Regions from separate parts of the Homo sapiens genome. Here region 2 is reported to be linked to region 1. Evidence: microRNA targets listed by miRTarBase, many of them from high-throughput screens and not tested one by one. Region 1 holds a microRNA gene; the other region holds the end of a gene's coding sequence. Distances are from middle to middle.
Evidence for each region. The annotated mature microRNA hsa-miR-7158-3p reads CUGAACUAGAGAUUGGGCCCA and lies in region 1 at 2,783-2,803, shown strand. An mRNA with a match to its seed (bases 2 to 7 or 8) in the 3' UTR can be bound and repressed. Matches are read on the target gene's strand: a 7mer-m8 pairs with bases 2 to 8, a 7mer-A1 pairs with bases 2 to 7 and ends in A, and an 8mer does both.

Region 1 (4,283 bases):
CTTAATAACCTGTAAGTTTAAGAACCTAGGGAATCTCCATGCTGGTGGCTGCGGTTATATCCCCTTATCCTCAACTCGTGAAGAAAGAGTCAAAAATGGCAGCAGGGTTGTGTCAACTGCTCTCCTCAGCAGCTATCATAAGGGAATTGCCTTTGTCATTTTCCCCAGCCATCACCACACTCCCACACGGCCACCATCACCTAAACCATCTGGCAGTGGGGGTTACCTCCTAAATCTAAGACGCAGAGACCCACCGCAGGCCTTTCTTTCTGGCTGCCCTCCACTCCCACCCAGAGGCTCAGTTTTGCTGGGCTGCACACCTCCGAGGACTCAGTTCTTTGTGTTTCATGTTGTTTCATATCCACTAGTGTTACAGAAACTGCTGCAAACCAGGGACCAAAAGTCCATAGGTTCTAATTCTAGCTGTGACACTAGTGAGATGAGTGACTGCTGGCAAGTTACTTTATCTATCTGACCTCACCTCCCATGTACAAAATTGGGTCTGTATGCACATTTGTGGTTCTAAATCCTGGAGTCCAAATCAGAGTTCTTTGTGCAAAATATACGTAGCTAGGTCCTAACCTCGGAGATCCTGACTCAGTCTGGGGAAAGGCGCAGATCTTGGGGAGAAAACAACTCTCTAGAAGAGTCTCGCCTTCAGTGAGTGACAAGATCTCTCCTGTCTCTCGGTTCACAATGTTACCCTAACTAATCCATCCTCTGATGTCACCTGCTAACAACTTCCCCTGTGGCATCAAACCAGTAGCCCATTTGCAGCTAGTACAAACACTTCTTTACATTTAAGTTTTGTTTACGAGATTTAGCCTACAATCATAGAGGCTGCCAGCTGGGTTTCAAATGTGTATGTTCCATTGCTAATAGGAAAAACTGCATCTATTAGAAAAATTCTCTCTGGGAGCTGAGCACAGAGGCAGGCCTTGTATTGCAAACATTTGAAAAGCCATAAGCAGGTATTCTGGACTGTGTTTTAGATCACCTGAGAACATTTCTTGAACACTAGTATTTGCTTAGAGTGACAAACCTATTAAGTGGTTCTTTCAGGTAAGTTTGCATCCAAGCAATGTCGTCTGAATCGCAGGAGGAAGTCAGGAGTTGTGTCTGGCTTTCTGGCCATACAAATGGCATATGGGAAAGTCATTGTATATTATTAATATCCTTTGATGTATATTATTATGACTTTCTCACGGTAGTAATGTTGTTGGTTTTTATTAATGTTATTTTTATAGCAATGCTAATATTATGAGCTAAAAGTTTCTGAGCATCTGCTGGGTGCCAAAAATTCTTATAAATGCTTTACATGCATTAGCTCCTAACAACACTTTGAAGTAATTCTTATTGTCCTTACTTGACATATACAGGAATAAAAACCTGACCATTAGACCGAGCGTGGTGGCTCACGCCTGTAATCCCAACACTTTGGGAGGCCGAGGCAGGCGGATCACCTGAGGTCAGGAGTTTGAGACCAGCCTGGCCACCATGGTGAGACCCCGTCTCTACTAAAAACACACAAAAAATTAGCCGGGCGTGGTGGTGGGTACTTGTAATCTCAGCTACCCGGGAGGCTAATGCAGGAGAATCGCTTGAACCCAGGAGGCGGAGGTTGCAGTGAGCCAAGATTGCGCCATTGCACTCCAGCCTGGGCAACAAGAGCAAAACTCTTTCAAATAAACAAACAAAACCTAAGCATTTGAGGGGTTTGGCCTGGGCAGTGGAGCTTGTGAGCTATATGAGCTGGAATCTGAGTCAAGGCTGGGCTGGTGAAAGGAGTTCACTCAAGTTCCCAAGGTATTCTGTCCTCCAGGACTCTGAATCACCTGGGAGGAGAAGGAATTGTGGCGGGCCTAACACCTTTTCTTTCCCAAACACCAAGAGCAGGTTCTTTCTGTTACATCCATTGAGGTCACATTCTTGAAGTGCATTTTGAGGAAGTCATTATTTTCGCTACAGCAGGGACTGATGTATCAGTCTATTAGAATTCAGAAAAAAGTAAGCAAACAAAAAACGTGTTGGAATTATTCTCTTCTAGCATTTTGAAATGTACAATGGTTAATGTTAACTATAGCCACCATGATGTATTGAAGACCAGGTCTTATTCTTTTTATCTAACTGTACATTTGTACCCATTAACCTAATGCTCATAGCATCAAGAAAAGATCAATATTTAAGGTGACAAATATCCCAATTATGCTGATTTGATTATATGAATGTGTTGAATTATCATATGTACTCCCAAAATATGCACATCTAAGATGTATCAATAAAAATAAAGACAAAAATTAAAGCTTTTACAGTAGAAAAAAGGTTTTAGAGAAATTATGATTACTTGATTCACCTAAACTGACAGTCTTGCTTGGAATGAATTACTGCTTTTTGTAACATAGTTTTAGAAGAGAGATTCACATTTAATGTTACTTTGTGCTAAGCACTGTAATCCATGCCTGGGTGCTCACAGCGCTCCTCTGGGACCAGGCATCACCATCTCCTCTGTAAAAGGAAGGTCAGCCTGTTGCCAAGACCACAGGATAAACGGCTTGGCTGATTTAGGAAACCCAGTTGGTCTTATGACAAAACATGCGCATTTGCCCTTCACCAGGTGATTTTTCTGTAGGGTTATCTTCAACAGTCCGACAAAGCTGTGTTCCACCAGCTCAGGCAGGCTGTGACCAGGATCACCAGCCATGTGGCATCAGGAAGAAGGGGCTGTGTGGCCAGGCTCAATCTCTGGTCCTGCAGCCTTCTGCCTTTGGCTTTCTGAAGCGAGCTGAACTAGAGATTGGGCCCAGCTCGGCAGCGCAGTTTCAGGAGAGCCAGGATACAAACCATCCCAGTCTCTGTTCCCACAAAGGAGAAGCTAAACCATTTTTTATTTGCCCATTCTAAGTGCTAAGTGATATGCAACTGCTTCACATAAGCCTTCCAGCCTTCCAGCCGACTCTGCTTTCAGGAGATATCCTTATGTCCCTTTTGCATGGCTTAGGAGAGTGAAGCACGTGAGAATTGAACGAGGGGTCAAGGGTCACATAACACATGAGCACGAAACCGGGACTCTCCTGGGGTATCAGACCCCAAAGCCAGTGGTCTGCGCTTGATCTTTGCTAACGTCCGAGAAGCAATAAGTCCAGGGCTCTTGACACATTATTGTGCATTTTACTTTGGGAGGGACTGTGGGTCCACTCTGCTTTTAACAGGAGGAAATTAAATATTTACATTTGATTCCAGTTTGGCCCCATGACTGTCCGGCTTCTTTCCTGTCAAAGGCCCAAATTCCCTGTTTTAAAGTAGAGGGTGAATTTGTGTAATGAGGATGGATCGGGCACGTGTAGAACACACTCTTTCACCTGCAGATTCACACTCCAAACACAAAGAAATACTGGATCATATATGGTATATTTTAAAAGATGCCATAGGCATACTTAAAAAGCACAACAGAATTCTATTTTCTCACGTCAGAGGGCAGAGTCTTATGAGCTATTGAGAGGAAAACTGTATCTTAGGGGTTGAGAGCCTAACGTCTGCTTGGGGGTGTTTGTGGCCCTGGCAGCTGTTGTGTGCAGTGCACATTAGAACTGAGCAGCTTTATAAAGCCAGGAACAAGGGTAGAGTCCCTGTGTCTCTGAATAGAAATTAGCGATGCTTAGCCTTCTGTACCAAGGAATGCATCACAAAAGCTAATGCTGGGACTGGGCCTGGTGTGGGATAGGAGTCACACAGAGGAGTCAGAACGCCAACTGTGGCTGGTGTAAGGGGCCTCCATTCACACTGTCTTTGCTGTTTGGAAAATCTGAGCAAGAATTTAAGGTAAAAGCTGATGTGGAACAGCTTGCAACCCAAAAGTCTCAAGCCCAGCATAAAAATCATTGCTCCAGTGAAGATGCCTGCAGAGCTCAAGGCATTTCTGAGACTCCATGGGAGAATGATTCCTAAGGAAGGTGTGCCCCCAGCACCTGTGGAGACTCATCACCTTGAGGGCAAACAGACTCTGTAAAAGGAGAATTCACCTCTAAGGAGCTGCAGACAATAGAGGGATTAAAATGGGCCTTTGATCATTCAAAAAGCATTTTAAAGGAAAAAATAAAGTAACATAATCCAAATTCCAACAGGAGACTTGAAAAAGAAGGTAATAACAAAATGGAAAATAAAGTCACTGAAATAAAGCAAGTGAGTTGGACTATGAATGTCTCCTGTCCATTAGCTGTGTCCCCGGCTGCAAGGTCCATGGGGACTGTGCCTCCCTTGACCTTGAATCTCAATGCCTTAGCAAA
Region 2 (4,000 bases), 26 Mb from region 1:
TAGTATAATTCTAAGCAATCTCTTTGTTATGATTTTGCCCCTTTTAGGCTGGATCAGTGCATGTAAGAATTCGACGAGATGCCAATGAACAAATGGTTCTTGCTCATGTGACCAACAGGCTGTACACTCTAGTGTCTACTCTAACTGTTCAAATTTTCAAGGATGACTGGATTAGGCCTGCCTTATTGTCTGGGCCTGTTGCAGCCAATGTCCTAAACTTTTCAGATCATCACGTAATCCCAATGCCTCTTTTAAAGGGTACTGATGATTTGAACCCAGTTACATCAACTCCAGCTAAACCTAGTAGTCCACCTCCAGAATTTTCATTTAACACTCCTGGGAAAAATGTGAACCCAGTTATTCTTCTAAACACACAAACAAGGCCTTATGGTTTTGGTCTCAATCATGGACACACACCTTACAGCAGCATGCTTAATCAAGGACTTGGAGTTCCAGGAATTGGAGCAACTCAAGGATTGAGGACTGGTTTTACAAATATACCAAGTAGATATGGAACTAATAATAGAATTGGACAACCAAGACCATGATAGACTCTAACTTATTTTTATAAGGAATATTGACTCCTTGGCTTCCAATTTATTTAGTAATCCAACTTTGCATTGACTGTTTAATCATTTACTCTAAATGTTAGATAATAGTAGTCTTGTTCACATTTCATGAAACCTATGAAACTATATTTTTGTAAAATGTATTTGTGACAGTGAAATCCTCGTAAATGTTAAAGGCTTTAAATAGGCTTCCTTTAGAAAATGTGTTTCTTTAAATTTGGATTTTGGTATCTTTGGTTTTGTAGTTGACTGCAGTGTGATGTGACCTTACCTTTATAAGAGCCACTTGATGGAGTAGATCTGTCACATTACTAAGATACGATATTTCTTTTTTTTTCCGAGACGGAGTCTTGCTCTGCCACTGTGCCCGGCCAATACATTATTATTAACTTAAGGCTGTACTTTATTAAGGCTTCCTTAGTTTTTGTTTTGTTTTGTTTTTTGAGATGGAGTCTCACTCTGTCGCCCAGGCTGGAATGCAGTGGCATGATCTCAGCTCACTGCAACCTCTGCCTCCTGAGTTCAAATGATTCTCCTGCCTCAGCCTCCCGAGTAGCTGGGATTACAGGCACCTGCCACCACGCCCAGCTAATTTTTGTATTTTTAGTAAAGACGGGGGATTTCACCATGTTGGCCAGGCTGGTCTTGAACTCCTGACCTCATGATCCACCCACCTTAGCCTCCCAAAGTGCTGGGATTAGGTGTGAGCCACCGCACCTGGCCGATATTTTCTTTAATGAAATTTATAAATATGCTTCTTGAATAATACACATTTTGGGAAAGGGAAAAATGTCTGTTCAAAAAGTAAAAGTCTCTTTTATAGCTTTTCCAAACTTAATTGCTAAATTTTTCTTTGAGGTTCTCCTGAATTATGTCTTACAAACTAAAAGCAAAAATTTTTAGCAGAAATTTTGGAATACATTCTATCTAGCACAATTTGAATTTTTAATTATCAAGATTTTTGTTAAAGTTTCTCTCCTTTAAAAATTTTAGTACATTTGTAAATAGTCCATGGTTCTCAGTGTTTTATTTTGATTAAGTGACTACCCAACTTTTGGTGATATGCAGTGAAAGAATCCCAATTTTCTATGTTACATTTAATCAAATACTGACATAATGAATTTATCTTTCCTGACACATTTTCATTCATTGGCTTTTTAATTTCTTATTTTATTAACAAAATATATCAGATATATTACCAAAACACATGGAGTTCCATACATAATATGGAATTTGATGTCTTTTCAAGTTGCACAAAGAATTTGAGCATATATAATTTTACCAAAGCATAATGGACCTTAGATTATAGAATACAGCATTGTTAGGTCTGCAGTGGGCAGTTTCTTTTTGTTTTGCTTTGTCAAAAATGGGAAATTGTTAACTGTGATGAAATGTGAGAATTACATAGATTATGTTATTTTTTAGTTGTTTTCCAAATGCAGAGTTTAAGGACTTTCTAACATGGCTAGTATTACTTCCAAAAAGTATAACAAGCAGCAGTCACACATGACCTAGGAGGGTTTTTTATTGTTTTATTTTATTATGCATTCCATAACAGTTTTAAAATGGGATTTTGAGAATGGACTTAACTTTCCTGGAATCCAATGCTCCTGGAGATTTATGACTTTCCCAGCCATCAGCCAGCTATCTAGAGAAGATTTTTGTTTTTCTTTTGCAACAGTTTCTTCAGTCAACTCATTCACTTTCAAATAGGAGCAGCACTTTGAAATCCTTTTTCTTCACTGTGGATTAAAAACATCCAAGAAGCCATCTCTGTCAAGCAGAATTGTCATCTGTGGTAATAAGTGACCATGTCCTAAATACCTTTTTCTTAGTGAGGAGTTGGTCATTGTCTTTGGCATCTGCAACCCCTGTTCAGGCATGTGACCTGCTAAAGAAATACAGCCTACACTACCTTGACTACTGGGGAAAATGATACTTCGTAAAATGTAATAAGGCAACCTGTTCCTTGGCCTTTATCTTATGTTTTCCAACTATTACTGTATCTGTTATTGGTCTACTATTACAGGATGATTCTTCTTCCTCCATTGATCTCAACTAAATATGAATTAGGGTCATGCATGAAATCTGAACTGCCGTGTCCTGAGTTATGGTTAAGAGGTATGTGCTGCCACCCCATGCATGTCTTCCCCATCCCCATAGGATTTTAAAGTGTTCAGGTACCAAACACAGTTCTGTGTGAGGTTTTATGCCTACTTCCTCAACACCAATTCAGAGGCAACACCTGTGCATCTGTCCCACCAAAGGTGCTTTAATACCTACCTTCACTATTTGAGAAAGGACACTCACAGTTGCCTGTGGGTTATGAAAGAATTGGCCCTACGTCCTGCATGTAAGATGTTACAGGGGACATTGGGCCAGGCATTATTATATAGAGAAGTCTTATTTGCCAAGCTCTGACTAACTTCTGGATATGAAAATAAGGAACTTGCCCAGCATAGGCCTATAGGCAGCAGCCTTACTAGTAAATCTTGCCACAGAATCACTTGAAGCTAGACAGAGAAAGAAGTTCAATTTAAATATTTGTCCCATTGTTTGTGATTAGGATGTAAGCTTTGTGGAATGTAATTAACCCTGCTTTACGAAGTCACCATATTATAATAGGAAAAACACTGCCTAGGAGGCAAGAGATCTGAATTCCAGTTCTGATGCTGCCACTGTGTAAGGAAGTAGTTTTATAACCCATGGGCAAATCATCTGAGCTTTCTCATCTGTAAAGTTAGGGAGAGGAATTAATTAGTTGATCTGTAAAATAATCAGCTTCAAAACGTTATGGCTAAATCTGTAGAATGTATGCCCAATTGCTAAACGGATGTTGTGCCCAGAATTTTATCTAGTGACTACCTCAACATACAGGCCAAGCGTTACCTACACCAACACCCAAGCCATTAATTTGAGGTGCCATGAGAATAGGTGAACCACAGCCTAACACCATTTAGGTTTTTGTGTTTTTTTCAGGCTTGCCTCTACTTAAATATATTTAGATGAGAGAGTTCTCTTAGACTTCTTTCTTTGTAAGGAAGGGTTATTTGGGGAAGTGTTGGAAAAAAGATTAGGGCAGGGTACCCTTAGTTTATATAGGGTACAAAAGAATGGGAAACATCTTCCCTTTCTTCTTTAATCTCTGAAGTCATGTTTGGAATTACATATAATGTAGCAGGTACTGGAGAGGACCTGAATTTCAAGCTTCTGATTTAGCTGTTTGTAAACTTCCAAGTTTTGCTTGACTAAAGAATGCTGATCTTTTTTGGGAGTCTGATCTCCTTCTAATATCAGAAAGTGCTTTTTATATTCCAGATTGCTTGAATTAAACTGTTTGGATTAAAGAACATATATGGAGTTTCCTCTCTGGTTTTAAATAATCTTTCTTTATTCAGTAGCTATTAATAATTTATCTCATATTCAGCGAA

Region 2: miRTarBase lists SLC30A6 as a target of hsa-miR-7158-3p. Seed matches in the 3' UTR shown: 7mer-A1 at 1,089-1,095 and 7mer-A1 at 3,098-3,104.

The regions. Positions count from the first base shown.
Region 1 is chr2:5,971,930-5,976,212 of GRCh38, forward strand. It overlaps MIR7158 (microRNA 7158), which reads left to right and starts at 2,733; the gene lies at 2,733-2,803. It overlaps SILC1 (sciatic injury induced lincRNA upregulator of SOX11), which reads left to right. Exons shown (of 2, transcript NR_026832.1): 2 at 1-4,283. RefSeq lists enhancers at 2,300-2,801, 3,681-4,283.
Region 2 is chr2:32,220,166-32,224,165 of GRCh38, forward strand. It overlaps SLC30A6 (solute carrier family 30 member 6), which reads left to right. Exons shown (of 14, transcript NM_017964.5): 14 at 48-4,000. The coding sequence ends at 548. Among named protein-coding and RNA genes, the nearest start is that of NLRC4, 43 kb to the right of the region's middle.